Homo sapiens: one gene and its partners. The protein of the gene in region 3 interacts with the protein of the main gene of each other region in a pairwise test. Each region holds a gene or a part of one and is shown on either strand. Other genes may lie near its edges. The genes, in order: CARTPT, ASPG and CEACAM6.

Region 1 (9,999 bases), on a different chromosome or scaffold from region 3:
AAAATAATAAGGAGAGAAAGCAGTTCTGTGTGTTAGCCCTGACGGTACTGCCTGTTCACTAAAGCAATTTCCTGATCTGACTTATTTAGGAGTGATAGATAGGAATAGTTAAGGGGCTCAAGAATATTCTAACTGAAATGATTTCTGGAAAAGTAGCAGACTGTGAAACTATTAAATAACTACTTGCACTTATTAAAAATTAAAACATATCCCATTCTGCCTGGGCGACGTGTGTCGCGCCTGTAATCCCAGCACTTTGGGAGGCCAAGGTGGGCAGATCGCTTAAGCCCAGGAGTTTGAGATCAGCCTGGACAACATGGCGAAGCTCCGTCTCTACTAAAAATACAAAAGTTAGCCAGGCATGGTGGTGCATGCTTGTGGTCCAAGCTACTTAGAAGCCTGAGGTGGGAGGATCACTTGAGCCTGGGAGATCGAAGCTGCAGTGAGCCGTAATTGTGCCACTGCACTTCAGCCTGGGTGACAGAGTGAGACCCTGTCTCAAAAAAAAAAAAAAAAAGAAAAGAAAAGAAAAGAAACAAACAAAAATACCACATTCTAATCACATATAGGCTTGTGTAGGGGAATTCAAACGGAAACACAGCCCCAAAAAATACACCTTGGCCCCCAGTGAGCAATTTTTATTAAGGAAAGATGTGCTTTCTGGGGAATTCAAAGCCCAGTCTGTTGATTGCCTAAGTGACATGGAGAAAAAGGACAAATCTTTGGAGTCAAAGGGATTACAGCTAAAATTATTATTTAGGATTATATGGTGTAAGCAAATTCCATAATTCTCTTGCCCTCTGTTTTCTACTCTGAAAAATAGTAATAATATCTATCTTGCAAGATTAGGCATGCTAATAATAATAATCACACTGAAAATGGTAACTGTGTATAAGAATATTTTCTATCAGAAAACTCCCTATGAATCCGTGGAGGGGCTTTATTTTTCAATTCTGCTATTATGCAAGTGCCTCTTGAGTTTGGATTAGGAAGCTGTTAACATTTATTTCTCTCATGATGCTGCTACTTAGATGTTACTTAGTCTGGTTTAAACCCTTGGAAATGTGACCTCAAATAAGCACTCAGAAATATTTAAAAGCTACTTAACTTTACATTTAATATGTTTTAATTTCTTGAGTTGAATTCTCACCTCCTCCAATTTTTATTTGTTCCCCTCAAAACTATTTTCTGAAATGACTCTTTCTCCTGGAATAGAGAATTTTTTCCAAGAGTGTGAATTTACTTGTGGGAATGAATGGGTCTTATAACCTTGGAGTCTTTAGACAAATAACAACCCTAAACAGCCCATATCTTTAAATCAATGTATATTTTCTAATAAGGGAGTTGTCAAAACAAAATTTCTAATTTTTCAAATTGCTTTTAATGTGACTAAAACATGAAACTGTTTATAGTTTATTGGTCTCACTGTTTAAAGTAAAGGGTCTGGCTAAAGGTTTTAATAAACAAAATTATATAACCTCAACTCCAACCATCTCCATCTCATTCATCTCTCTCTTTCTCTCTCTCTCTCTCACACACACACACACACACACATACACACACACATACACACACCACATCGCTGCAATCAAAGAAAAATAGAGTATACTAAAACTGGCTTGGCAAACTTCTAATTAACGATCAAAACTCCTTGGAGCTAAGGTGCCATTTTCCCAATAGGCTGCTATTTTTAAAATATTTTTCTTTGAAAACAACAGCATGATTAATCTCACCATTTCCACTTAAATTACTTATATGAAAACAGCAGTGCACTATGGGCAATTATTAAAAACACTTTATTATGTATAATTTGTACATGCTTCAATTTGTGTCACTTAGGGTGATTTATTTTCCAGGTTGTAATGACATCTACCGAGATTAGCTAGATCTAATTTTCATTCTGCCATGCCACATACAAAAATACAATTTTCAAACAAAGCTTCCCTTCTTTACACAAAGGTACACAAGAGTTTGTCAGACAAATAAAATAAGAATACTTCACACACGTATCAACACCATACAAGGCATTATTCTTCACACAGTAACATCTAATGTGTTCTTTTATTTTTGAAACAGCAGGAAAAGAGCCCTTTCCCTTCAGAGGAAAATAAAAACTTTATCTGTTGCTTAAGCCAAACTCCAGGGAGGAAGGTGTGGTCCTCTGGGGAAAGTAGAGGGATGGGGATGTATGGAGGAGAATGGACGCCCCTTCATAAGCACTTCAGGAGGAAGGAATTGCAGGAGGTTCCTCGGGGACAGTCACACAGCTTCCCGATCCTTGCCCCTTTCCTCACTGCACACTGCTCACCGGCGTCACACTGAAACAACAAAATGTGTGGTCATCGAGTATGAACAAACCCAGGTTCCCAACAGGCAAGTCTCACAGTCAACGCAATTTCTGTCTCTTGAAAGGGGCAATTGGACCCCATCACCATCACAAGAGGTCTACGTACAGTCAGATCTGAAACAGGGAGCCTTGTGCTTATAACCTCAGTGAGAGTACATTTTTTAAAGAAACTTACATTATTAGTTTTATCCTAGTTTCTTCCACCTTTAAGTGGCGAGGGTTGGGGGGCGTGGGAAGGGGAGCATCACATTTCCTGGCTCCTTTTCTTGCCCTCTCAGAGGGGAAAAAAATCAGACCTTTTTCCTGAGCAACAAACAATAGACTTACACTTTCTTACAACCCCTGTTCCTGCTTTCCCATTTCCTCACCCGGGAAGGAAGAAGGAGCCCACAGAATCCTGCAAGCCCATTACCTAAGTTATTTAGCCACATCCTACGGAGAAGACTGTGTGTACGATTCAAGGCGGTGTACTTTCTCTTGGAAAAACACGGGAAGGGAGTGACCACAAACCTTACCATGGGGACTTGGCCATACTTCTTCTCATAGATGGGAACACGTTTACTCTTGAGCTTCTTCAAGACTTCTTGCAGCGCTTCGATCTGCAACACACCGCTTCGGAGCCTGAAGTTGCCGCCTTGGCTGCGAGCCCAGCCCAGGTGCGCACTTCCAGCCCTAGTTATAAGGAGCCCCGGACCCACACGCACTCTGCGGTGGGACTCCGCGGACACAGGGAATGGTCGAGGGGTGGAAACTTAGCGGACGCTGTCCCAGGTACTGACCGCGGGTCTCTGAGCCGCTGGGGTCCCTGTTGCTCAGAGGGGCCGGGATGAGGGATTCGCTCAACAGACTGCCAGGAGCCCGTGAGCTCGAGACGCTCTTCGGATGGCAGTGGGTGCCTGGGCGTTGCGCTCAGCTCCCCGCGCCCTGACTCTGGGAATAGGAGTGGGGGTGGGGGGAGGAGGGAGGCGTGCAAGAGAAGAGACAAGGCGACAGCTCAAGGGGGTCGAGAGCGAGGGGAATACCGACCAGCTCCTTCTCGTGGGAGGCATCATCCACGGCAGAGTAGATGTCCAGGGCTCGGGGCTGGAGCTCGGCGTCCTCCTGGGCACGGGTACCCAACAGAGGTAGCATCAGCAGCAGGGCGGCGCCCAGGAGGGGCAGCAGCCTCACGCGGGAGCTCTCCATCGTTCTGAAACTCGTCGTTGCTGGGGCACCACGCGCTCCCACCTTTTATAGTGAGCCCGAGCCCCCGTGCAGGAAAGAGGGAGGAGGCGAAGAAGGAAGGGGGTGTGGAGGAGGGCCCGGGTCAACCGTCTGTAGGCAGCGCTCCGCCGGCGCTTGACGTCAATGCCCGCCGGGTTCCAGGCGCCTGGGAACGAGGCTCTGCGCACAGATGGGCTAGAGCGCAGAGAACAGGACCCTGCGCCCCCAAAGGCTGTCAGTCTCACGGCAAGGGATGCTCCCCGAGGGGCCTGAGCTGAAGCCGAGGGGCTAGAGGTGAGGGACGGGAAGCGGGAGGGGCCTAGGAAATGGAAAATGCCTTCGGGTCAATGCACAGGCAGGAGAGTCGTTTCCCAACACCTAGCAGTGGTGACAGCTGCAACATCCACCTCGCCAGCCCTGCCTTGCCTCGCACCCCAACCCCAAGTGTGGCGGTGAGAAGGGGGTGTTGCCTCCAGACAGCCACATTTGCTGAGCACCTTACTCTGTGGGGTAGGGGAAGCAAACATACTATACAAAAGAAAGAGAAATAGTGGCCCTCCACGTGATGGGTTCTATGATGGAATCTGTGTGACAATAGTTAAAAGAAGAGAGGGAAAACAGACAAACCCGGATTCAGCAGTGGTGTTGGAAGTGCAGAGAGCCAGGCTCTGGTTCCCATCCTGGCTACACCACGTAAAAGTTGTATGACTTTGAACAAAATGAAGAACCTCTCCAAGCCTCAGCTTTCTCTTTTGTAGATCTAGGATTAAAAAGATATACCTCACAAAGTCATCAGTAGGATGAAATGAGAGATTAAGTATGTCAAACTCCTGGTTCTTAGCTAAGCTTCCCTGTCCCTCCTTTTTGAACTTTGAGGCTGCCCAGGCAAATTTAACCATCCCCAGAACCTCCCCCCACCCACCACCAACCCTTGGTATCCAAGAAGCCTGTCTAGAAAGAGAGTAAAAGAGTGAAAAGAAAGACAGCTCCATGATTATGAAAATATCTCCAGAGATCAGAAGTCAATGGTGAACCAGCTCCCCAACAACTTGGGAGAACAATGTGGCTTTTTTAAAAGTTGAGATCCTTACAGCCTGAATGCACAGGAAAATTCCTGTAGGAAAAGCAATGCTTTCCCGCTTAGACCTGCTTGCTCACCTGGCTTCCTTCACCACACCATCTTTCCCTCAACTGTTCCTAAATTCATCCACTCTTCTCCATCCCCATTACTACAACCCAGTCCTAGACAGCTGCCCCAGTCAACTTAATGTCTACCACTTAATCCCCACCCTATCTTCTCTTGCCTTCCTCTACTCCATAGTTCACCACCAACCAGAGTATTTTTCCCCTTAAAATACACTAATGACTCCTAATCTTACTAAGCACTGAATCTAGATTCCTCATCCTGACTTGCAAAGCATTATATGATCTTCACCCCTCTCCACCTCATGTTCTACCACTCTGCCCCAGACTCCTCCACTCCAACCTCACATGGCCTTCTTTCTGGTCCTCTAGCAGGCCAATCTCATTCATACTTTGATGTCTTTGCACTTACCCCTCCTTGAAAGGTCTTCCTGTATTTCCAAAAGGCTCACTACTTCTGTTATTTAAATCTCAGTGTAAATATCTATGACTACTCAATCCAAACCATCTATCAATACTTTTCTCCCACAAATTTATTGCATAGCAGATTATGTGGGTCATTAAGATAGTTTAATACACAATATATGCCTGGTTACTTCAACTATCAAGTATTTAATTGGTACTCAAATACTCACTGGGAAGCAATTCAAGAAGTGATATCTCTTCTAATGAATAGCACACATATTAACAGCATCAAAATATTTTGCTGTGGGGTAAACCCAACTTGAAAATGTATCTAACACCTCCCTCAGCTCTGCCTTCCACACATACCTTTTGATTCTGCACAAGAAAACTTCAGTGGCAGCACGTTTTACTGTTAAAACCTTACAGAGACATATTGACACTCACTGCAAAAACCATCTCCAGTGATCTTTAAACTATTCTAAGCTTCAGAAGAAAAATAATCTCAAATAAGATTTTAGCCTATTCTTCCTGAAGGATGTAGATATTGTCAATGCAATACTTTCTCTCCAATTTTGTTCTACCCAGACACAAGTAATAACTTTCCCTTTGTGCTACTTCTATTGGAAAAAAATCCAAAGTTTAAATCTTGCTGAACTTGAGTTGGTGCTATCATTTTCTTATAAGGAAGGCACATTTAGTTAAGGGGTTAGGGAAAGGACTCTTGGAAAATCCTGTGAAACAAGCCAGGGGCATCTTTGTCACTTACATACCACAGGCTTTTCTTCATCTTGAACAGAATGACTTTATAAACTGTCTTTAGCTAGCATGGTATAGTAAATTCTAGGCTATCTTCTTCCCAAAGACAACTTTTATGTAAGTTAAAACTCAAAAAGAAACAAAAGCATGAGACATTCCACAGTCTTCATATTATGCCCTGTTAGGAGAATTTGTATATTCTTACTACTTTGTAATGACTCCATTAGGGGAAAAAAGCCCATCACTGATGCCCCAAGCAATTAAAATCATATGGAATTTAACTACTACTTCTCACCCCAGATATAGAAAAGGGAGGCAGGTCACCTCATGAAAGAGAAGCAATGGCCAGGATGGGTCTTTGGAGATTTAATGTGAACAAATCTCTCTTAATCATCTTTTCTGAGATAGAGTAGGCCTCCAGTCCTGCTCTTTGAAATAGCTCAAGTAAAGAAATCTCATAAGCAGACAGCCAAGAAACCAGTGCCAGCAAGATCTACTTACAACATACTGCTATCTGAGAACATTTTAAAAACCTCTTCTTACTCATGCCTAACTCTTGGAGTCCTGAACTTTTCACTATAAAAATAACCCATCAATTGATTTGTGACTTGGCAAGAAAACGATGTCTGTATTGTTCTTGGAAAAAAGAAAACACACACACACACCCCTTAAAACATATGTGTTCAATATTACTAAATTAGAACCCTAGAGCCCTAAGATTTTAAGTAATGAGAAGGTCATGGCAGAATTTAACACCACAGTGATGTTTTTTCCTAAGCTTTAGTATTTCTCTCTCCCTTCCTTTCTCCTTCAGTTGTGAATAATTTCTGTTCCTATGTAACTCAGAATAACACTGGCCTCTTAGGTTGTCGTATTTCCCAAATATCAGACTACTTTGTTAACCATTAACCCTCCTCTCCCATCCCTCACCCCAACCAAGTCTTGTTCAACAGTAAAACATCCTCAATTTCAGCGAGGTGCAGTGGCTTACACCTGTAATCCTAACACTTTGGAAGGCCGAGGCAAGAGGATTATTTGAGCTCAAAAGTTCAAGACCAGTCTGGTCTGGCTGGGCACAATGGCTCACGCCCGTAATCCCAGCACTTTGGGAGGCCAAGGCAGGTGGATCACCTGAGGTCAGGAGTTTGAGATCAGCCTGGCCAACATGGCAAAACCCCATCTCTACTAAAAATACACAAATTAGCCAGGTGTGGTGGCATGCACCTGTAATCCCAGCTACTTGGGAGGCTGAGGCAGGAGAATTACTTGAACCCAGCAGGGCAGAGATTGCAGTGAGCTGAGATCACACCACTACACTCCAGCCTAGGTGACAAAGCGAGGCTCTGTCTCAAAAACAAAACAAAACAAAACAAAACAAAAAAACAGTCTGGTCAACATGGTGAAACCACATATCTACAAAAGAAAAAAAAAAAGAAAAGAAAAAAAAAATTAGTCAGAAGTGGTGGCACATGCCTGTAGTCCCAGCTACTCAGGAGGCTGAGGTAGGAGGATTAATTGGGCTCAAGAAGTTGAGGTTGCAATGAGCCATGATCACACCACCACTGCACTCCAGCTTGGGTGACAAAGTGAGCCCCTGTGACAAAAATAAAATAAAAATTTAAAATTTCAATTTAAATTTTGGTAAGTCCTCAGTTTTATTGACTTCCTAAATATTCATATTTAAGACTGTTTCTCCTTATTTGTGTTAGTTGCACTTTCCTCCAAGTTAAACATCACTCTGTTCTCTTTGGTACACATATGCAATCTCTTGGGTGACTTTTTTTCATTTCTACATTGTTTGCTCTCCACTCTTCCTCCCTGCAGAAGAGAGATTAATTCCCATTGACATTTATGTTCTGTTTACTTCCAAGCCATAGCCTTCCAAAGGAACTGCTATTCACTGTGTTCTAACTAAACATCTTTATCACTATCTGAAAGAAAATAATCTGTAAGTAAAGGACACTTGGAGTCGGTTCTAAATTGGGAGGGGTGGAGATGCAGTAGCAAAGAACATGTGCTTTACAGACTGCTTCTGAAGGAGCAAAGCAGGCGAAATTAAACAAAGCTTTTCAGTCAATTTTTTAAGCTTCCAATTGAAAAGCTTTCCATTTCAAGACTTAATTTTAAAATCTGGGTGCCCTATATGCTCACAACTCTGCTAAGTATTTTGAGGACTGCTGAGATAATCCAGACACTTCTTGCCTTGAGGATCTTTGGGTCTAGTCATTTGTGCCCACGTCCACAAACTCCTAAAATACAATGACTTAGTGAGATGAGGGTCCTACTAGAGAAAGAGGAGCCCAGAGAAGTCAGAGATTCATTGCCACAAGAGGGAATCTTCGTGAAAAAGGGGCATCCTTTGAATGAGCTACTGAGTCCTAGGGGATGGGTAGAATTCCAACAATAGCAAACATCCCACTCTGGGACCTTGGGGGCGGGCAGGCAGCAAAGTCAAGTCATCAAGGTAGGAGATCTGGGGAGCACTGAGTGCTCTGGGTTGCTGGAGAGCAGGGTGCATGGGAATGTGAGAGACGGGGAAGCATAATGGGAAACAAGCCTGAAAAGGAACTTTGGAGCACAAAAAGAAAATCCAGAGTGGCAATAGATAGTTCCAAATTTGGATCCAATAAACAGGTGGTAGGAGCACAGATGAACCCAAAAGATTTCATTTTTCAAATACTAAAAACAAGCTTTTAACCTAAAGGTCTAGCCTGAGAAAAGTGGTCCTTTTCAGATATAGGGAGATAGCACTGACCAAGAGATAGATTGTTTCCTAGGACAAGGAAACATTTATCTGGATCCCAGCACAGCACACCTTGTTGGAGTGCGGCAGGGGTGGCATGCCAAAACCACACTTTACATGCCACCGCTAACACCATCTTCTCCTCTAACTTTTCCAGATCCAGATCTCCTAAGCTTACAGAAAGTGTAAAACTAGCACTAAAGCAGCTGATTAGAATACCCAAGAAATTAACTATATGACTTAATAGGGAGCAATTTTGAATCATTCAGTGATTGTTCATTGTCTATAGGTTCAAGTCAACTTCTCAGCATGGTGTTGAAGTTTCTTATAATATGGCTCTGGCCATATTTCTAATCTCATTTTTCTCTGCTCCCAACCAGTTCCATCAGATATATTTTACTTTGTAGGTACATCAGCCTTATTTCTTAATTTTGCACCGAATTTACTAGGTTATGCTGCTACAACAAACAACTCCCAAATCTTGGTGACTTAAAAAATATGCAGTTATATTTCTCACTCGTGTCCCATGTGCATCAAGAATTGATGGAGTGTTCTATTCATCGTCACTCAGGGATCCAGACTGACAGACCATCTACCATCTCTAAAGTGGCTAATTTTGTTCCAAATGGAAAAAAGAGTTTGTTCTATTCATCGTCACTCAGGGACCCAGACTGACAGATCATCCACCATCTCTAAAGTGGCTAATTTTGTTCCAAATGGAAAAAAGAGTTCTGGACAGTCTTTAATGAACAACTAAAAGCTTTGACTCATAAGTGATACTTCACTTTTCCTTCCAACTCATTAGCCTGAAGTAATCACACAGCTCCACCAAAGTCAAAAGGACTAAGAATTACAGTGTTAACAAGTACCTAGAATGCAAACATTATGGAACAACACTAATGACTACACATGTGTCTGCCTTTGTTCATGCCCTTTCCTAGTCCTCGAATGTCTTTACCATACCTTGAACATCTAAAAACCTCATGCTTCCTATCGGCAGAATTTATTTCCTTGTGGATGTATGATTAAAGGCCCCCACCTCTTGCTAGCTGTTGGCTGCAGGCCACCCTCAGGTTTTAAAGAGGCAACTCATAGTTTTTAGAAGCCACCCTTCATTCTTTACCACCTGAGTTCCCTCAATATGGCCACTTCATTAAGGACAAAAGGTGACTGTTTAAGTGCAGTCTGCTAAGATGGAGCTTTATGTAAATTAGTTCAACCATTATGGAAGACAGTGTGGCAATTCCTCAAGGATCTAGAACCAGAAATACCATTTGACCCAGCAATTCCATTACTGGGTATATACCCAAAGTATTATTCTACTGTAAAGACACATGCACACGTGTGTTTATTGCAGCACTATTCACAATAGCAAAGACTTGGAACCAACCCAAATGCCCAT
Region 2 (9,783 bases), on a different chromosome or scaffold from region 3:
TAGTGGCATCAGTTTTTTTTGTTTGTTTGAGACAGGGTCTCACTCTGTCACTCAGGCTGGAGTGCAGTGGCGAGATCTCGGCTCACTGCAACCTCCACCTCCTGGGTTCAAGCGATTCTCATGCCTCAGCCTCCCCAGTAGCTGGGACCACAGGCATCTGCCACCACATCTGGCTAATTTTTTTTTTGTATTTTTAGTAGAGACAGGGTTTCACCATGTTGTCCATGGCTGGTCTTGAACTCCCGATCTCAAGTGATCCACCCACCTCAGCCTCCCAAAGTGCTGGGATTACAGGTGTGAGCCACCGCGCCCAGTCAGCTGGGGCAATTTCTTTTGTTATTTTAAATAAACACCAGCTTTCAGCCGGGCACGGTGGCGGGCGCCTGTAGTCCCAGCTACTCGGGAGGCTGAGGCAGGAGAATGGTGTGAACCCGGGAGGCAGAGCTTGCAGTGAGCTGAGATCGCGCCACTGCACTCCAGTCTGGGCGACAGAGTGAGACTCCATCTCAAAAAAATAAAAATAAATAAAAAATAAACAAACACCGGCTTTCACACCTAACTATGATTTTGTAACTTGTATTACTTTTCTCAATGAGGGCCCTCCAAAAGCTTCAAGGGCTGCAGAATCTGAACCCTCCAGCCCTGCCTGGAACCTCTTCCTTGGCCCATCCAGGCAGGTGCCTGAGTTTGCTGGTGACTTGGAAACTCCTCAGCCCCCTGCCAAACACCTGGAAAGGAGGCTTTGCTCTCTAAGACAATGGGCCCCACTGTCACCAGCGAAGTCAAGCTTAGGCTTAGAAACTTGTGAACGTGTAGCACCCATTCAGGAAGGAGGTCCAGGCCAAGGGCACAGACGCCACTGCAGTAACCAAGAAGCCATGGGCATCACTCCACTGACACTCTCGACTGCTGGGACCCGTGTGGTCACCGGGCAGGGAGCTTCTCTCAGCTGCCTGGCCCCAGATCTCTGCCCTCCCTGCTGTGCCTGCAAGGAGCCGGGCTCAGGAGGGACTTTGGGACAGGCCGGCAAGCAGGTGGGGTTCCCAGTTTGACATAGGAAGTCTTCAAGTTTCTCGGGTGTACAGAACGTGGCCACTGATGCCAGCTTGGGCTTGGGGTTATCAGCCGTGTTTGGATTCGCTATGCCCCTTGACCTGTGATAGCTTCAATGAACTCAGAGAAGGGATGGGTCAAGGGGCGTCCCCACTGGCATCACCTCTGCCCTCCCTGAACTCTGGCAGGGCTCCAGGTGTGCAGCGTTCCACCCACAGGTCACTGTTTACCAGCAGGCGCAGAAGCCGTTCCAACAGCGACAATCAAACAGCTTTACTAGGGCAAAGCCACCACTCCCCTCTCACCTCCCCAGGGAAGGCCAGAGCCCACGTCAGCAGTGTGGAGGGAGTAAATCATTGACGCCTGACAGTCTGGCTGCTCCAACCTCACGAGGGGTTGGGGGAGCCCATTCCTGCAGGTTCCTGGAAGTGGATGCCCCACATGGGTCAGCTAGCAACAGCTGGGGGTGACCTCGCAGCCACACGAGGACGGGCTGCTGAGCAGAAGCCAGGACCCCAGTGCACAGAGCACCAAGGGATCTCAGAAGGCTGCTTCAGGTCTGAAGACTGACGCCCCACACCCAATTTCCAGCCTCCAAGTCTCTTGTTTCCCACCCAGACACAGGACCTCACAGCCTCTTTCAGAAATGCGGTGCACGCGTGTGAGTGCACCCACAGGCTGCTGCGGCGAGCACGCGGGGGCCAAGCGAGACGGGTGTGTGGTGGGGTTACAGAGTCCACCTGCCCCTGCAGCTCGGACCACTCAAGAACTACATGTTGAGCTCAACGAAACTGCAGTTGGCCACACTCCAAGCCTGAAGGGGTAGCGTCAGGGGCGTCGGACGAGGCCCCACACAGAGTCCCCAGGTCCTGTCCCCACTCGGGGGCAGCTCTGGCAGGCTCCGGCCCTGCTGGGCTCCCCACTCCTCTTTCCTGCACCTTGCAGGGCTGCTCCTGGCCTGGCCCTCTCCCATCTTTGTCCTGCAGGCCTTGTGTCCTCAGAGAAGCCCTCCCTGGGCTGCCTCCAAACTCCACACCATCCACACACCCAGCTCAGACCCTGTTATCAGCCCACAGCCCCTACAGGGCCCTGGCAGATCCTGCCCCTGGGACTAGCTCCTTAATGCATGCCATCCCTTCAATGGCAGCCTCTCTCTCTAGCTTGTGAGGGCCAAGCACAGGAATTGTGTCACTCTGTGTCAGTGGAGTGTCACACAGGGGCGTTTGCCAAGCTGTGAATGACTTTGTTCCATTCACAGGCAGAAGGAGAAGTGCAGAGGAGGCTCCCGGCAGCCTGGACAGCCACGTTCTTGGGGACCTGAGTCCCTCGTGGACGAGCCCCACTAGGCTTTGTCTCCTGGGCTGGGCGCAGAGTGGGCCTCCAGAGGGGTCTGCACCGGCCACAGTGTGGTGGGTGGAATCTGAGAGCACCGACAGAGTGCTGGTGGCTTCTGAGCAGCCACTTCAGCAGAAAGGGGTGGCCAGGAGGGGCAGCTGCCAGGGAACAGGCCGTGAGAGGGGGTGGGGATAGGAGGGGCGGGGAAGTGGTTGGCAGATGGGCAAGGGACAAGAGAATGTTCTGGTCATGCCAGGGGAGGCCCTGGGCTCTGGCAGAGCCGGAGAGGGTCCCAGCCGTCCCAGGAGAGAGAGCTGCGCTGGACACAAGCAGGAGTGTGGGGAGGGGCCAGGGCAGCAGGGAGTGGGAGGAGGAGGAGTGGAAAGGGCTCCTGAGGGAAAGGCAGGCAGTGGCCCATGGAGGGTCGCAAACAGGTTCAAGACGGGGCGAGGGGGCTGTCCTGGCCCCAAGGGAGGCCCCACATCACAGCAGAGCCCATCTGGGGGCCCCAGGCAGTGTCCTGCCCTCCTGGGGAACACCCAGGCATTCTGGAGGCTCCAGTGCAACCGTCCTCTCCCCATCCCGGTGGCCTCAGGCTCCCCAAGCTACCATCCTTCCTGTGCCCAGCCCAGGCTGGCAGCACTGTGCTGGAGTACCACAGAGCTCGGTGCCTGTCCCAGGCCCTGACCCCACCCAGGCAGAACTCAGTCCAGACGCAATCGCTGGTCTCTGGTCAACCAGGTCCACACAGGGGCAGAGGAAGCAGGGCTCTGAGGCCACCTCGGGTGTGAACACGTGCGTCCCCGCAGATGCCAGGTAGCCCCAGTATCGTGCCAACCACTGCTGCCTGACCAGGACCCCAGGGGACGGGGACACCCTCCTGGGTGTCGCAGTTGAGGGGTCCTCGCAGCCTCCTAAGCCTTCTCCAGGGCAGCCTCCTAAGCCTTCTGTGTCCAGAGCAGGAGCGGCAGGCCAATGCCCTGGGGCCCTCCCGCCCCATATTCCAGGACTTCAGGACGCTGGCCCTCAGGGGCGCAGCGGCAGCACAGGGGGCCTGGCCCCAGGGTCGCAGGGCGCTCCCGGGAGCACCGCGACGGCGAGAACCCACCGCAATCTCCTCTGTCCAGGTCGGGGCTCCATGCGTGGGGACGCCGGTGGCCGGAACCGGAGGAGAGCGACCTCAGCCCGCACCCCCCATCCAGGCGCGGATTTGACTCCCCAACGACCCCCGTGGGTGCAGGAGGGTCCGAGGCTCCCGGTCGCGGCCAGGTCCAGAGGCCTACCCCGCCCAGGGTCTCGGACTCACCGCCGAGCTCACTCCGCATGCCAATGGTGCCGCCGGTGTAGACGGCCAGCAGCCTCCGCTCGGGCCCCACCGCGCGCGCCATGCCGGACCGGGGACCACGGGAGTGGACGGGGGTGTGCAGCGGGGACGCAGGGCCTGCGGGACTCAGGGACTGCGCGGAGGAGGCCCGGGGCGCCGGGGGCAGCCTGGGAGGGCGGGGCCGGCGGGGGCACCCACGGGGAGGGGGCGGGAGTGGAGTCTGCCCGGGAGGGTGGGAGGCCCCGCGGAGGCGGGCGGGGGCAGGACCTGGGGGCGGGGTGGGTCCCGGGGACTGTCCAGGGTCGGAGAGAGAGGCGGGGCCTGGCGGGGTGGGGGCGGGGCCTGGCGGGGTGCGGGGCGGGGCCTGGCGGGGTGCGGGGCGGGGCCTGGCGGGGTGCGGGGCGGGGCCTGGCGGGGTGCGGGGCGGGGCGCGGCCTTGGAAACGTGTAGGAAGAGGTGAGGTCTGTGAGGGCGGCAGGGGGAGCTCCTGCCTGGGCAGGAGATTGGCTGGGGCCTGCTTGGGGCTGGGGAGCGCCTGTCCAGGGACTAGGGGGCAGCCAGAAAGGCAGCGACAGGGGTGGGGCGGGTCCTGAGCCATCCTGCGGCCATTGGCCCTCCGTGGCGGCCCTGGGTGTTTGAGTAGCTGTGACATGTGGTGCCTGGCAGACCGTAGTGCCCGAGGCCCTCCACGACCTGAGCACAGAGGGGGCTCCGTGTCCTGTCAAGCAGCCTCCACAGCCCCGGGGCTCCAAGGCCGGCATTGCTGCCCAGGCCCTGCTGTCCCTCCTTTGGATGGCCAGAGGCAGGCAGAGCTGGACCAGCCCCTCCACATGTGCCCATTCACACACCATCCAAGAGAAGAGCCCGAGGGGCCCCCAAGGGCTGGAGCGGGACAGAGCAGGAGTATGGCCTTCTTGGACAAACACCGCCATTTTAGGTTCCCTTTGATTAAAAAGCTGCCTAAATCCAGCCCAAAACACATCAGCCCAATAGCTAATGTCAGCACGACCGTAAACCACAAATAACATCTCCAATCAGAAACATGCCAACCTCGAGATAACCTCCCCTCCGACCAGAGACATTCCAAGCCCGCAATAAACTTTCCCTCACATAGAAACATTCCGAGCCTGCGATAAGCTCCCCACTTCCTAAACCCTTAAAGATCCTTAGTCTGTAGGAGAGATGGCTCCTGACCAAAATCGGCCAGAAGTCCCTTTCAGGTTTATTCTCCAAAATAAACCTGCCTTTGTTGAGCCGCTTTTCATGTTTCTTTCCTCTTTCTTTAACTCCTACAGAGCCCACCCTCCTTCACTCCCATGAGAGCCCAGGAGGGCAGGGCACTGGCGGGTGCAGGGTCCCAGGAGGGTCCCAAGCTGCAGGCTTGCTCCCAGGTGGACAGAAGATCCGCGGCCTCCTCGTCTCCTGGCACCTTGACTGCCTGGGGCACTGATGCACTTTGGTGGGAAACTGTGTGTTGCCCCCAGAAGGCACCAGCATTTGACACTGATTCCATAATAAAAATTATTATTATTCTGTTGCCTGGAGGGCAGTAGCAAGATCTTGGCTCACTGCAACCTGTGCCTCCCAGGTTCAAGCAATTGTCTTGTCTCAGCCCCCTCCCCGAATAGCTGGGATTGCAGGTGCACACCACACCAGGCTAATTTTTTTTTCTTTTTTTTTTTTTGTATTTTTAGTAGAGACGGGGTTTCACCATGTTGGCCAGGCTGGTCTTGAACTCCTGACCTCAGGTACTCCACCCACCTCAGCCTCCCTAAGTGTTGGGATTACAGGTGTGAGCCGCCATGCCCAGCCCCATATAATTATTTTGATAACAACAGTGCAATAGTGCAAAAGTAATCTTGTCTGCAGAGAAGCAAAGGCATTCTGCCCAGCAAAGGTCTGTGTTAGTTTTCTGGGACTGCAGTAACAGAACGAGTGATTTACAGTGCAAGGAGGTCTACCTCTCACAGTTCTTGGGGGTGGAAGTCTAAGGTCAGGGTGTCACAGGTTGGTGTCTCCTGGGCAAGCAGATGGTGCCTTCTTGCTGTGCCTCACAGGGTCTTTCCTCTGAGCAGTCACGCATCCCTGATGTATCTCCAGATGTCCAGACTTTCTCTTTTTATAGACATACCAGTCAGATTGAATTTGGGGCCTCATTTTAATTCAACCATCTCTTTAAAGTCTACCTCCAAATACAGTTGCATTCTAAGACACTGGGGTGTGGGGGACTTGAACATTAGAATCTAAGGGAGACAATCCAGCCCATCACAGCCCCCTGAAAATCCAGTTTCAGGTCCATTTGCACAATCATGTCAATATTCCTCATCTGTAAGTGTCTGTTTCAGGACTTCTCTTCTGAGCTGGTCCTCACAGCTGCCTGGGCTAGGGAAGCTCTTCGACGCATGCTCACCCTGCATCCCTGTGAGCACCATGTCTGGCCCTTTCGGGAATCATCCTTTAACAACCCGCCTGCTACCATAAATTCTAGGAAAACTTGTCTGGGGCCAGGGCAGCCTTCACTGGCAATAATCCTCACTGGAGTGGCTTTTCTCCCAGGTGCAAGGAGCCCCATCAGGTTTCTGCTGCTGAAACCTTGCAAGCACCAGGACTCGACGCTGCAGCTTCACCTGAAGACACTGCCGGTCTTTGGACGAATCCACTGTCCTGCTTTGCTTTTGTCTGCGTCCACCTACATCTACAGCGTCCTTGGACGGAATCTTTCATGCAATATATGTTGAAGGCTGGCTCTGTGCCAGATGCCTCTCTAGGCACAGGGGACGCAGCCCGTCCTTCTGAGTGTACCAGCCAGGGTGGGGGCCATAGTAGACAAAAATACCAGCGTCTGGCAGTGACAGTGCCTGGAGGAACACTCAGGGAACACGGAGACAGGCAGTGCTGTTTACAACAGGGTGGCCAGGGAAGGCCTCTCCGAAGGGTTGGCATTGGAGCAAAGCCAGCATGCCAGGCGGGACAGGCTGCCAGGAAGGGACAGGTGCTGAGGCCCGAGGCAGGAGTGAGCATGGCCCCACAGTGCCCAGGTCAGTGGGGCGAGAGCACTCAGAGGGAGGGGATGCCCGCTGAGTGACTGTGGTGCCACGCAAGGACTTTCAATTTAACCCCAAAGGTGAACACCAGCCCCACCGAGGGTTGGGCTGGTTTGTTTTAATCTCTGGCTGCTATGTGCGGAGACTGAGACAAGAATGGGTTCAGGAGGGCTTTGGGCAGGGTGGGGAGGAGCTGGGGATGGGGAAGTGCAAGGTGGGAGTGCTGGGAGCACAAGCTGGAGCTTGAGGGGTACGCGCCGAAGAGAAAGGGTGACTCTCCTGTCTTTGGCCAGAGCAGCCACGGAGTGGGGATGTCCTTACTGAGAAAGCAGGGGCCAGAGTGGGGCCTGGGGCCAGGCAGAGGGAAGCAAGGTGTGTTGGACACATCCTGCTTGGGGGCCACCTGGGCAGGTCCAAGGAGACTCAGCTGCGCGTCCTGCAGTCAGTGGCACAGGGACCACAAAGTCGTGACAGCAGCGAGGTGTCAGCAGAGACAAAGGCCCTAGTCTGAGCCTCAGCATTCTGGCCTCAGAGGCCAGGAGGAGGAGAGAACCCAGGACCGCGAGGGGAGAAGGCCAGTAAGTGATCTTCACGTGAAGTCCCGGGGCTTGGTGAGGGGAGGCCAGAAGCTGGCCACGGTGGAGCAAGGTGGAGGGTGCTGCGGCCTCACCCCGGGTGAGTGGCGTGGAGGGGCAAACGTCTGTCCCCCTGGAGGGACACTTGGCCATCGCTGTGCTGCCTGCTGCTGAAGGAAGGGCTCCCCACCAGGGGCTGGGTTAGGAAGGTGTGGGGTGTGCCAGTCGCTCCCTGGCTCCTGGCCCCCTGGCTCCCCAGGCAGTGTAGTGCCAGGAGGTGAGTCCAGGGAACCTAGGCAGCCCCAGCCAAGTCCCCACGTTCTGCCTGCCCCTCCTTTATTTTTGATTGTTCAGAAAAGTGTTTCCTTGGCCACCCAGGGGTCTCCTCGTCCCCTCTTCTCTCTCACTTCCCATCTACACCCTCCCCAGTGGCCCTCCTTCCACACAGCGCAGGAGAGTTCTGGGTGGGACCCTCCCAGAGTGTTTATAAAATCCACTCCGGCCCCAGCCCCACCCAGAGCAGAGCGGAGGGACATCTGCCATTTGACAGTGCCCGGTGGTCCGGACCACCCTACAGCCCTGCCTACCTTTTCTGCAGCCCTGCCTGTCTTTTCTGCATCTCTTCTTCTAGAGCAGGGTGCTCAGAGCGTGGCCTCCGCTCCAGCAGCAGCACCTGGAACCTGTGGAAATGCAAAGCCCAGGCCCCTGACAACAACTCCGCGTGGGGCCCAGGAGTCCAGACTCTGACCCCGCTCTGGGTGATGCTGATACAGGTGCACATTTGGGAACCACTGGTCTCGAACAAAGGCCGGCAAACCAGGGCTCGACGGCCAGGCCTGGCGCACCTGTGTGTGTAAACACAGTTTTCTTGGAACAGCCACACCCACTCATTTATGTATTGTGTTGGGGAGGTGCCAGGTGGCAGGCCCCCGTGGCCATGCCATGGCTGGCCTTCCAGAGGCAGAGGGGCAGGAGGAAGTGCCTGGGTGCCGAGCAAGGGGCCGCAGGAATGCCACACGTACTCCTGTCTGTCCTCAGCCACTAACTGGGGCAGGCCTTGGTCCAGGGTGGTCACCTCCACCCTGAGGCTGGGGGGCCTCAGGTCACAAGCTCTGCTCTCCCAGTCCCCAGCTCCACACAAACAAGCCAAGACTCCTGGAGGCAAGGCGCAGTGCTGAGGCCACTGGCGAGGTACACGGTGCCCCCCTGGGTTCTGGCCGTGGCAGCAGGCCTGGGCAGGGAGGCCCTGGGAGCCCACCTTCTTCAGCCGCTCAGGCGTCGTCTGTTGCCCTACACTGTGAGTCTTCATGGTACTGCCTATGGGCCAGGCGCTGTTGCAGCCACCCTGCAAATCCAGGCACATTTCACCCCTGTGACCACACCGAGGCAGAGGATAACTGTCCTATTTGGCGAGTGAGGGGCCTGAGGCACACAGTGCGTCCCACGGCAGGCAAGCGCTGGCACTGGGCTTGTGGACACCACAGGAGTTCCTGACACTGTGTTGAAGCAGGCTGGCCCGGCCTGGGCCAGTGTGCTGGAGGGGAACAGAGGTGTGTGGGGACCCCAGAGAGAGGAAGCCTAAGAAACTTTCCGACAGGGAAAGGAGTCTTGGGGCCTGGGCAGGGAACTGCAGAGAGCTGGGGCATCTTCGGCAGAAGGTTGGACCCCAGGGGAGTGTGGGAAAGCACTGAAGGGTCACTCTATGAGCTATGATCGCACCACTGCACTCCAGCCTGGTAATAGACCGAGCCCGTCTCATAAATAAATAAGGGCAAAGGACTTGAACAGACATTTCTCCAAAGATGATATACACTTGGCCAAGAAGCATACGAGAAATGCTCAACATCACTAATTATCAGGGACATGCAAAGCAAAGCCACGTGGTGTCCCCACTCACCCTTTGGGATGGCTACTATCAAAAAAAAAAAAAAAACAGAAAATAAGTGTTTGCAAGGATGTGGAGACATTGGAATTCTGGTGCACTGCTGGTGGGGTTATAAAATGATACAGCCACTATGGGAAACAGTAGAGGCTTCTCAATAAATTAAAATTAGAACTACCATAGCGTCCAGCAATTCCATTTGAGAACAGAGACCAAAGATTGGAAAGGAAGGTCTCAAAAAGATGTTTTCACACCCACGTTCATAACAGTACTGCTCACAAAAGCCAAGAGGTGGAAGCAACCTGTGTGCATCCACAGATGAGTGGATAAGCAAAGTGGTATCTCCATAGAAAAGGAAGGAAATCGGCCAGGCGTGGTGGCTCACGCCTGTAATACCAGCACTTTGGGAGGCCGAGGCAGGCGGATCACGAGGTCAGGAGATCGAGACCATCCTGGCTAACAAAGTGAAACCCCATCTCTACTAAAAATACAAAAAAATTAGCCGGGCGTGGTGACGGACGCCTGTAGTCCTAGCTACTCAGGAGGCTGAGGCAGGAGAATGTCGTGAAC
Region 3 (9,792 bases):
GTGTGTTGTAGGCTCAAATGGTTTTTCCAAAAGCCAAGCCTAAAAACAGGCTTCAGGGGTGCCTTGCAAATTAGCATTCCTTTTGCCAAAAAAAAAGCATTGATTTTTTTTAATGGAAAGCATTCGTCTTGCTAAAAAAAAAATCCCCTCTTGTGGCCTGGGTCATTAGTTTTGTCTCTGTGCTATCCTAGATTATAAGGTATAAAGAGAAAGACTAAAGAAGAATGAATAAGGAAGTGCACATATAAATTAACAGGGCAGAATTGGGATGGGTATGTGTAAGTTAAGGGGACATAGGTATAAATTTTTTTTTTTTTTTGAGACAGAATTTCACTCTTTGTTGCCCAGGCTTGAGTGCAGTGGCGTGATCTTGGCTCACTGCAACCTCTGCCTCCTGGGCTCAAGCAATTCTCCTGTCTCAGCCTCCCGAGTAGCTGGGATTACAGGCACCCACCACTACGCCCAGCTAATTTTTGTATTTTTAGTGGAGACGGGGTTTTACTATGTTGACCAGGCTGTTCTCGACCTCCTGACCTCAGGTGATCTGCCCGCCTCGGCCTCTCAGAGTGCTGGGATTACAGGCGTGAGCCATTGCACCCGGCCATATGTACACATTTTATGCGAACATAAAAAGGACCTCTTGTTCTAAACAGACCTCTCCATATAAATAATGTGGGCTTTCTTGAGTAGATAGCAGGCTCTATCACAAGAACATTCCAGCAGAATCAAGAGAGAATGGGTAGCTGGCTTCTTTGCTAACTGGTAGGGTAGACTGTGTAAGTTGCTGAAGAGAAAGAAGATGAAAGGGCAGATGGGTGAGGGTGAAAGAAACAGGATGTTGAAAGGAAGAGACTGAAAGGAATGTTTACCGAGGGCTCATCAGGTACCACGCTCTGTGTTTAGTATCTTAATTTACTCTTGCACTGTCATTTTCTGATGCAGTAAGTGTCATCCTTGTGCTGCAAATGAGAAGAGACTGTGGGAGGTGAAGTGAGTGGTCCAGGATCATCCAGGCAGTTCACAGCAGAGCTGGTGTGTTTCACCTTGAAGTTTGTGCTCTGGCCTGTGATTCAGGCAGAAAGGTGAGACACAGAAGGAAGGCAAAGCAAATTTTTGTTGTGGGTGATGTTTATGAAAGTTACTTGTGTTAGGCAGAATAATGACCTCCTAAAAATGTCCACATCCTAATCCCTGGAACATGTGCATGTTACATTATTTGGCAAAAATACTTTGCAAATAAGTAAAGTTAAGGATCTTGAGATGGGAGGTTATTCTGGATAATCTGGGCGAGCTCAGTGTATTCAGAAGGGCCCTTGTAAGTGAAAGAGGAAGGCAGGAGGGTCGGAGTGAGAATGACGCCGCCTGAGAGACTCCACTGGCCGTGGCTGGCTGTGAACCCACATCAAGAGACAGAATTACAACAAATTTAGTTATAGAGCTAATTGGCTTTTATTTGTGATTTATGAATTAAAGCAGCACCACTCTACAAGTACAGTGATAGCTCCCCCTGGGCAATACAATACAAGAACAGTGGGTTTTGTCAAATTGGAACAAGGAAACAGAACCACAGAAATAAATACATTGGTTAACATCAGATTAGTTCAGGTTACTTTTTTGTAAAAGTTAAAGTAGAGGGGACTTCTGTATTATGCTAACTCAAGTAGACTGGAATCTCCTGTGTTCTTTTTTTTTTTAAATTGGTTTTAATTTTTTTTAATTGGATCTATCTTCTTCCTTAACATTTCAGTTGGAGTATGTAGCATTTAGCACCACTGGCTCAATGCGCTCACCTAGGTGAGAGTGTGACCAAATCTTAAAGCATTAGTGCTATTATCAGTTACCACCATTTGGGGCTTTTATCCTTCATGGGTTATGATGTTCTCCTGATGACACATTTCTCTGAGTTTTGTAATTCCAGCCAAAGAGAGACCATTCACTATTTGATGGCTGGCTGCATGCAGACATTTAAAGCTTTTAGAGAATACACTACACCAGGGAGTATGACTACTAGTATGACTATTAGGAGGGTAATACCAAGAGTTGGACTACGCACCTTAGGCAAGATACAAACCAACTAAAATAGAATAAAGAATGAGTCAGATGAGTGTAGCCATTTTAACCAAGCAGCACATTTGTTAATTTCTACAACTTAGTCTCAGCGATACCCATTGTATTTAGCCATGTTCAACAACAAGTGTCAGAAACTGCACAGACTCCTCCCTGTTCAGCTGGTAGGGAGCAATTCTATTATTTGGCATTGCATGGCTGGGTTGAATTAAAACAGGGAGTGAGAACAGGTGAGTCTAGAAGTCCAACTCTGAAAAGGACCACTGTACATTTGAACACACGGCTGTGTTAAAGATGCTGCTAATGTCAGTCACTGGGTGCACTAAAGGATCTCTTATTTTATGTAAAACGTTGGGATTGACAAGATAGATCTGACACTCTGTTAAGTTACCCTCTGAAGCTACTTCTTGTGAAATACTAATGACAGCATCATCCTGCCAAGCGAAAGAGGCAGGCATAAGCAAGGACAAATTAAAAGGGGGTAAGAGCCTTATCATGATGAGGAGTCTTGTTTTGACATCTTGGGAAAAGCTGTCCATAGTGTGAAGTCGTCAATTTCTCACCATGGTTTGCAGTTTGACTGTCTCTAGTTAGGTGAAGTCTCTGAGTGGCACACACCTCAGGCCTGAGGGTTTTCCCTTTAAATTTTCATTGAGTTGTCCATCTCCAGCATATAGGGCTTCAGGAGCAGAGCAGACCTTGTTTTTAGTGGTTCCATGGGATAAAATGGGATTGGAGGAGCTAGAAGAATTCAGGGTCTGGTCCAATCTATAGGTGGATAATGAAAATAAAAAACAATAAGCAGAGCTGTGATGTCATAACAGGTGTACTATAGTTTTTTTCAACATAATTTTTCTCTTCATAGGCATCTTTATTTCTACCAAAGATAATCCCAGTAAGACATATTTGTTTTCCAAATAAGTTTAGTCTCATCGAACTTGGCCTCATTCTTTATATAAGTGCAACAAGAGTAGCAGGTGACCACATAGTCTTTTTTTTTTCCTTTTGAGACAGAGTCTTGCCCTGTTGCCCAGGTTGGAGTGCAGCTCACTGCAACCTCCACCTCCCAAGTTCAAGCGATTCTCCTTGAATAGGAGTATAGGCCTATGTATAGCCCTATGTATGCACATGAATAGTATAGGCCCATGTACGCACATGAATAGTATAGGCCTATGTATGCACTCCCAGGCTGGAGCGCAGCTCACTGCAGCCTCTACCTCCCAGGTTTAAGTGATTCTCCTGCCTCAGCCTCCCGAGTAACTGGGATTACAGGAGCCCGCCACCACACCTAGCTTTTTTTTTTTTTTTTTTTTTGTATTTTTAGCAGAGACGAGGTTTTGCCATGTTGGCCAGGCTGGTCTTGAACTCCTGATCTCATGATTCACCCACCTCGGCCTCCCAAAGTGCTGGGATTATCGACGTGAGCTACTGTGCCCAGCCTGGGGTCTTTTCAAGTTTGTTTTACAGGAAGTTTTTATAAGGAATCTCAGATTAAACTTTTAGAAACCTCTTGACATGAGGAAGCCAAACCAAGGCCGACTTCAGACTTTGCCAGCAGTGCCTATGGGTTCATCTATGTATATTCCCAAATATAACATCCCAATCAAAGCCTGGGTAATATAACCAGTGTTTTCAAATGTATCCTGTTATAAAGGGAGCAGATTTTTATTGAGCAAATAACTATACTATTATATTTATTATATAATATTAATATTAATTAACAATTACAATTAGTCGTTAAATAATAATTATTAATTTATTAATAAATATTAATAAATTATTAAATAATGATCATCAAATAATTGTTTATCAATAATAATTATTTTATAACAATTAATATTAATAACTATATTTTTTGTGCAAATAACGATATTATTATAAACATATAAATATTCATGAATAATTTCCGAATTCTGGAGCAGTCAGGTAGGGAGAAAATATAGATGTTTCAATTTTTGTTCGCAAAATTGTTGAAGCTCTAGATAGCTTAAAAGAAAAAATGTTTCCTGAAATCTGGGAAACAAAACAAAGAATCCACAAAATTTCAAATAAAAAATCATAAAAATATTATTTTCATTATTATCTTTTAGTCTCATGAAATGAATTCTCTGCTTGCTCTTGGTTGGCAGTTTCATGAAGCTATCAGTTTGTTAAAATTTTGGAAATTCTTAAATAGTCTAATGGTATGATTTTAATGTTATCAGAAACTTGTATTCAAGAGTACATGTCGGAGTATTTTCTGTAAATATCCTCAATGAAGAAGCAATTTTGGATGGTAGCTGATTGCAAATGCTTTAAGGAAGGAAGAATCAAAATAATTGTCGGGGCTGGGCGCGGTGGTTCATGCCTGTAATCCGAGCACTTTGGGAGGCTGAGGCGGGTGGATCACCTGAAGTCAGGAGTTCGAGACCAGCCTTATCACCATGGAGAAACCCCGTCTCTACTAAAAATACAAAATTAGCCGGGCATGGTGACGCATGCCTGTAATCCCAGCTGTGCAGGGGGCTGAGGCAGGAGAATCGCTTGAACCCAGGAGGCAGAGGTTGCGGTGAGCCGAAATCACGCCATTGCACTTCAGCCTGGGCAACTAGTGAAACTCCATCTCAAAACAAAAACAAAAACAAAAAACAACCCCCCCACCAAACAAAACAAAACAAAAAACAATTGTCAGTGAATGACAAAGATTGAAAATGAGTATGGTTAAACATCTGATGAGAGTTCATTATGATAAGAATGCATCTCCCAGGTGAGGGGCGCCTCTGCCCGGCCGCCCCTACTGGGAAGTGAGGAGCCCCTCTGCCCGGCCAGCCGCCCCGTCCGGGAGGGAGGTGGGGGGGTCAGCCCCCCGCCCGGCCAGCCGCCCCGTCTGGGAGGTGAGGGGCGCCTCTGCCCGGCCGCCCCTACTGGGAAGTGAGGAGCCCCTCTGCCTGGCCACCACCCCGTCTGGGAGGTGTACCCAACAGCTCATTGAGAACGGGCCATGATGACAATGGCAGTTTTGTGGAATAGAAAAGGGGGAAAGGTGGGGAAAAGATTGAGAAATCGGATGGTTGCCGTGTCTGTGTAGAAAGAAGTAGACATGGGAGACTTTTCATTTTGTTCTGTACTAAGAAAAATTCTTCTGCCTTGGGATCCTGTTGAACTGTGACCTTACCCCCAAACTTGTGCTCTCTGAAACATGTGCTGTGTCCACTCAGGGTTAAATGGATTAAGGGCGGTACAAGATGTGCTTTGTTAAACAGATCCTTGAAGGCAGCATGCTCGTTAAGAGTCATCACCACTCCCTAATCTCAAGTACCCAGGGACACAAACACTGCGGAAGGCCGCAGGGTCCTCTGCCTAGGAAAACCAGAGACCTTTGTTCACTTGTTTCTTTGTTCACTTGTTTATCTGCTGACCTTCCCTCCACTATTGTCCTATGACCCTGCCAAATCCCCCTCTGCGAGAAACACCCAAGAATGATCAATAAAAAAAAATAAAAATAAATAAAAATAAAAATAAAAAAAGAATGCATCTCCCATAGACATTTAGTTACTTCTGTGGCATATGACATTATGGCTTATAATCTGTTAGATTTCTGGGAATCTCTTATAATTTTTGGAACACTCACATCAATAACATAACCATAAATATAACTTAGAGAAGGTTTAGCATCACTTATCATTTGACAGTGCTTCCCATATAATGTAACATATCAAATAAGGCGGCTTTTCCTTTTAGTTTCTGTTTCTCAGTTAGATTACTGAGTTCTTGGTGGAGCCCATTAATGAATTAGGCCAACAAAGTATAGGCCCATGTATGTTGAAAAAGCTCCAGAGGTAATTCTAATCCTCCTAGCTAAAAACCATGGGTTTAGCCCCAAGTCCTACCTATTAGAACAGGGATCCTCCATCGTGGCTACACATTAGTAGCGTCTGGAGAGGCTTAAAAATTACCAATGCCTGGGTCCCACTCCAGATCAGTAGATCAGAATTTATGGTTGGGGCTTGAGCATCCGTTTTTAAAAATGTTTCGGAGTGATTCCAATGTGTAGCTATATTTCCCATCAGATTTATCTGAATTTTTGTGGCATTCGCTCCTTTCTACTTTGGTATCATGATTATTTTTCAGGTCTTATCTCCTGTCTTGGGCTTTATGTTCCCTGGGGGTAGGGACCTTGCCTTCTTCATTTCTGTATCTGTTATGAACACATGAATTGATTGTCAGGAAAAGGTTCTCAGCCACATGCAGGATGTGTCCAAAGTTCACATATTAATACTACACAGTCTGTGTTCTCCATGAAATAAGAGGTTGCTTGTGATGAAGGGTGTGAGTAAGTCCACAGGGCAGGTAGTGGAGGGGAGATCACCCTGTTTTTAGGTGTAACATTGAAACTAAGAATTCTATGTGCATCCGGGGTAAAGGGGCAGGGATGTGTAGAGAGTCAGATTCTAATTAAGATGGAGGAATTATACTGGGAAGTAGAGGGAAAGAAAGTAAGAAGAATTAGTAAAGAGAAGAAATTTGAACTTAACTAGTAGGCCAGAGCAGGTTCCTTTGGCTTCTTTTTTTTTTTTTTTTTTTTGAGACGGAGTCTTGCACTGTCGCCCAGGCTGGAGTGCAGTGGCACGATCTCGGCTCACTGCAAGCTCCACCTCCCAGGTTCACGCCATTCTCCTGCCTCAGCCTCCCGAGTAGCTGGGACTACAGGTGCTCGCCACCATGCCTGAATAATTTTTTGTATTTTTACTAGAGACGGGGTTTCACTGTGTTATCCAGGATGGTCTGTATCTCCTGACCTCATGATCCGCCCACCTCGGCCTCCCAAGGGGCTGGGATTACAGGCATAAGCCACTGTGCCTGGCCCCCTTTGGCTCCTTAAGTAGGTGAGTGAACTAGATTTTAGGAAGGTAATGAGGCAGTCATATGCAAGAAGGATTCCAACCTTACAACAAGGGGTCAAGCAGGATGTTGAACAATTATTGAGGTTGATGGGAATGGAGAGACTGACAAAAGTGAGAGATGTTGAAAAAGGACGAAGAGGCTTTGACAATGTATTGACTCTAGGAAACAAATGAGCAGAGGCTGGGGATAATTATATCTAGGAGACAGTGGGGTACAGGGAGCATGAAGACCAGGGAAGAAGAGACCTGCAGGAATTAGTGCTGAGAAGCAGGAGTTTAGCGGTAGAAGGAGATCCAGTCCCAGATACAGGTGAAGAAGTTTTTTTCCTTTCCCAAGCATGGTGGTCAGCCCTGCAGGAAACATGGCAAGAGGAAAGGCGATCATACCTGCCAGTCTTCCTGAAATATCGAAAATACACCAGGGCTGCTATATCAGAGCCACCCTGGCCAGCACTCCAATCGTGATGCCGACGGTGGCCACAGCTGAGAGGACAGGAGCACTTCCTTGTGGGAAGAAGAGAGAAGGAATGAAGGTGATGTTATTCTACAGTGGGGTCCCCAAGAACTAGCTGTCAACATGAAGTAGGCTTGACTTGTTCCTTCAAGGAATACACTAGTTTTGTGGGAAAGTTGCAATTTTTTTTCTCTCTTACCACGTTTCTAGGTTGGTGATCAGTCTTCTGTCAATTTCATCCTGTTCTTTCTGCACTCAGACATTTTTGAAGGCTTTGAAAATTTGAGAAAGTCTGATTGCTATTTTTGCATGTCATTAGAACTTTCTATATTTTTATGTTTGCATCTTTTTCTCAGTGTCTCAATTGTGGCAGCCATGAATAAGAGCCTGTTGGAGCTCTATGGCAGGGACTTGATGGACAGAAGGCCCAGGCTAGTGCATTCTGAATTTACTATGTTCTTTGCACAGAGAACTCACTTCCCATGGGCTCCCACCAGGGGAAAGAAAGCAAGCCCAGGTCTGTGAGACCCTGCTTCACTCTCATGGGTGAGGGGTTCAAGGACTCCCCATCGGTCTTGGGGAAACTCAGAACTGCACTGCTATGTAAAACTTCCCTCCTTCTCTTTCTCCTTCTCAGGAATGAGATCTGCATCGTGGTCTGAGGGCTCTCTTAGGCTCTCCTGTCACTGCTGCTCCACCTTCCCTCATGGCTGTTTTACCCAGTGAATTATCTTGTACCTCTAATCCCATCTTGGCTGCATCTCAGTGGATGAAAGCTAACATACCAGGCTTGATTCTTTGCACTGTTTTTCCTCTCTCCCATGTTTAGCCAGTAACCATGTCCTAGTGAGTTTCCATTTGGTGCTTAGCCCTCACCAGTCATCTCAGTGCGATGGTTAATGCTAGGTTAGCTACTGTTGAGGGGCATGTCCTAGATACCAGGCCCTGTGCTAAATACTTTACCTGTATCTCATTTGATTTATACAGTAACTCTCTTGGGTAGACATTATTTCCATTTTACAGATGAAAAGACAGAGGCTTAGGGTGATGAGAAAACTTATCCAAAGTCACATGGTTAGTGACAAGTGGATTTAGAATTTGACTCTAGGACTACCTGACTTTAAGGTTAATGGTAACAGTAGTAATAATAATAGCTAATATTTGTGAAGCTTTTCTTTGTGTGTGGCATTTTGCTGAAGGCTTAATCAAATGTTACATTAAATCTTCAAAACGATACTATGAAACAGGCATTGTTATTTCAATTTTCATTTTTTCCACCCATTTCTTAGTGATGAGAATTATTGCAATTTTCAGTTGAAGAATTGAAGGCTCAGAGAAGTTAAGAATCTTGTGCAAGAAATTGATAGTGGTAAATACTTACATTAAAGAGAGACCTCAAATCAACAACCTAACTTTACAAATTCAGGATATAGAAAAAGAACAAAATCAACCCAAAGATAGTGAATGAAGGAAACAATAAGAATTATAACTGAAATAAATAAAATGGAGGCTATAAAAACAATAAAGGGAGTCAATGAAACCAAAAGTTGGTTCTTCAAAACAGATCAACAAAATTGACAATCATTTACTAGGTTGACTGAGAAAAAAAGAGAAGATTCAGATTACTAAAATCAGAAATGAAAATGGGGGCATGGTGGCTCACACCTTTAATTCCAGCACCCTGGTAGGTCAGAGGATGAGGGTTGCTTGAGGCCAGAAAGTCATGACCAGCCTATGCAACATAGGGCGACACAGTCTCCACATTTTTTTTTTTTTAAACTAGCCAGGCATGATGGCATATGCCTGTAGTCCCAGCTACTCAGGAGGCTGAGGTAGGAGGATCACTTGAGCCCAGGGGGTTCAGCCTGCAAGTAAGCTATGATCAAGCCACTGCACTCCAGCTTGGGTTGGGTTACAGAGTGAGACCTACTCTCAAAAAAATTGATGACATTGCTACCAATTCTACAGAAATAATAAAGATTAAAAGAGTGCGGTAAATAATTGTATGCCAACAAATTGGATAACCTAGATGAAACGGACAAATTCCTGGAACACACAAAAAAATCTGAATAGACCTATAATTAGTAATAAGATTTAGCCAATAAAAGCATTTGACAAAATTCAACATTCTTTTATAAATAAAAACACTCTGTGAATGGAAGGAAACCACCTCAACATAATAGAGGGATACTCAATGGAGAAAGACTGAAAGCTTTCCCTGTAAGACCAGGAGCAAGACAAGGATGCCTGCTTGCCCCACTTCTCTTCAACATAGTGTTTTAAGTCCTAGCTGGAGAAATTAGGCAGCAAACAAACAAATAAACAGACATCCAAATCGGAAAGAAGTAAAATTATCTCTGTTCACAGATAACTTAAACTTATATGTAG

What was found.
Region 1: the proteins of CEACAM6 (region 3) and CARTPT interact in binary tests that used the Homo sapiens proteins (3 or more experiments, as listed by UniProt).
Region 2: the proteins of CEACAM6 (region 3) and ASPG interact in binary tests that used the Homo sapiens proteins (3 or more experiments, as listed by UniProt).

Annotation. Positions count from the first base shown.
Region 1 is NC_000005.10:71,712,827-71,722,825, reverse strand, and holds CARTPT (cocaine- and amphetamine-regulated transcript protein preproprotein), read right to left. Parts: upstream 3,552-9,999; 5' UTR 3,533-3,551; coding exon 3,374-3,532; intron 2,947-3,373; coding exon 2,863-2,946; intron 2,319-2,862; coding exon 2,211-2,318; 3' UTR 1,781-2,210; downstream 1-1,780. UniProt on the Homo sapiens protein: Satiety factor closely associated with the actions of leptin and neuropeptide Y; this anorectic peptide inhibits both normal and starvation-induced feeding and completely blocks the feeding response induced by neuropeptide Y and regulated by leptin in the hypothalamus.
Region 2 is NC_000014.9:104,079,764-104,089,546, reverse strand, and holds the start of ASPG (60 kDa lysophospholipase), read right to left. Parts: upstream 3,848-9,783; 5' UTR 3,777-3,847; coding exon 3,695-3,776; intron 1-3,694. Other genes in the region: uncharacterized protein LOC124903408, read right to left, coding at 6,612-6,687, 7,919-8,694. UniProt on the Homo sapiens protein: Exhibits lysophospholipase, transacylase, PAF acetylhydrolase and asparaginase activities.
Region 3 is NC_000019.10:41,763,845-41,773,636, reverse strand, and holds the end of CEACAM6 (cell adhesion molecule CEACAM6 preproprotein), read right to left. Parts: intron 7,455-9,792; coding exon 7,378-7,454; 3' UTR 7,338-7,377; intron 2,836-7,337; coding exon of another isoform or gene 2,819-2,835; 3' UTR 1,426-2,818; downstream 1-1,425. UniProt on the Homo sapiens protein: Cell surface glycoprotein that plays a role in cell adhesion and tumor progression. Intercellular adhesion occurs in a calcium- and fibronectin-independent manner.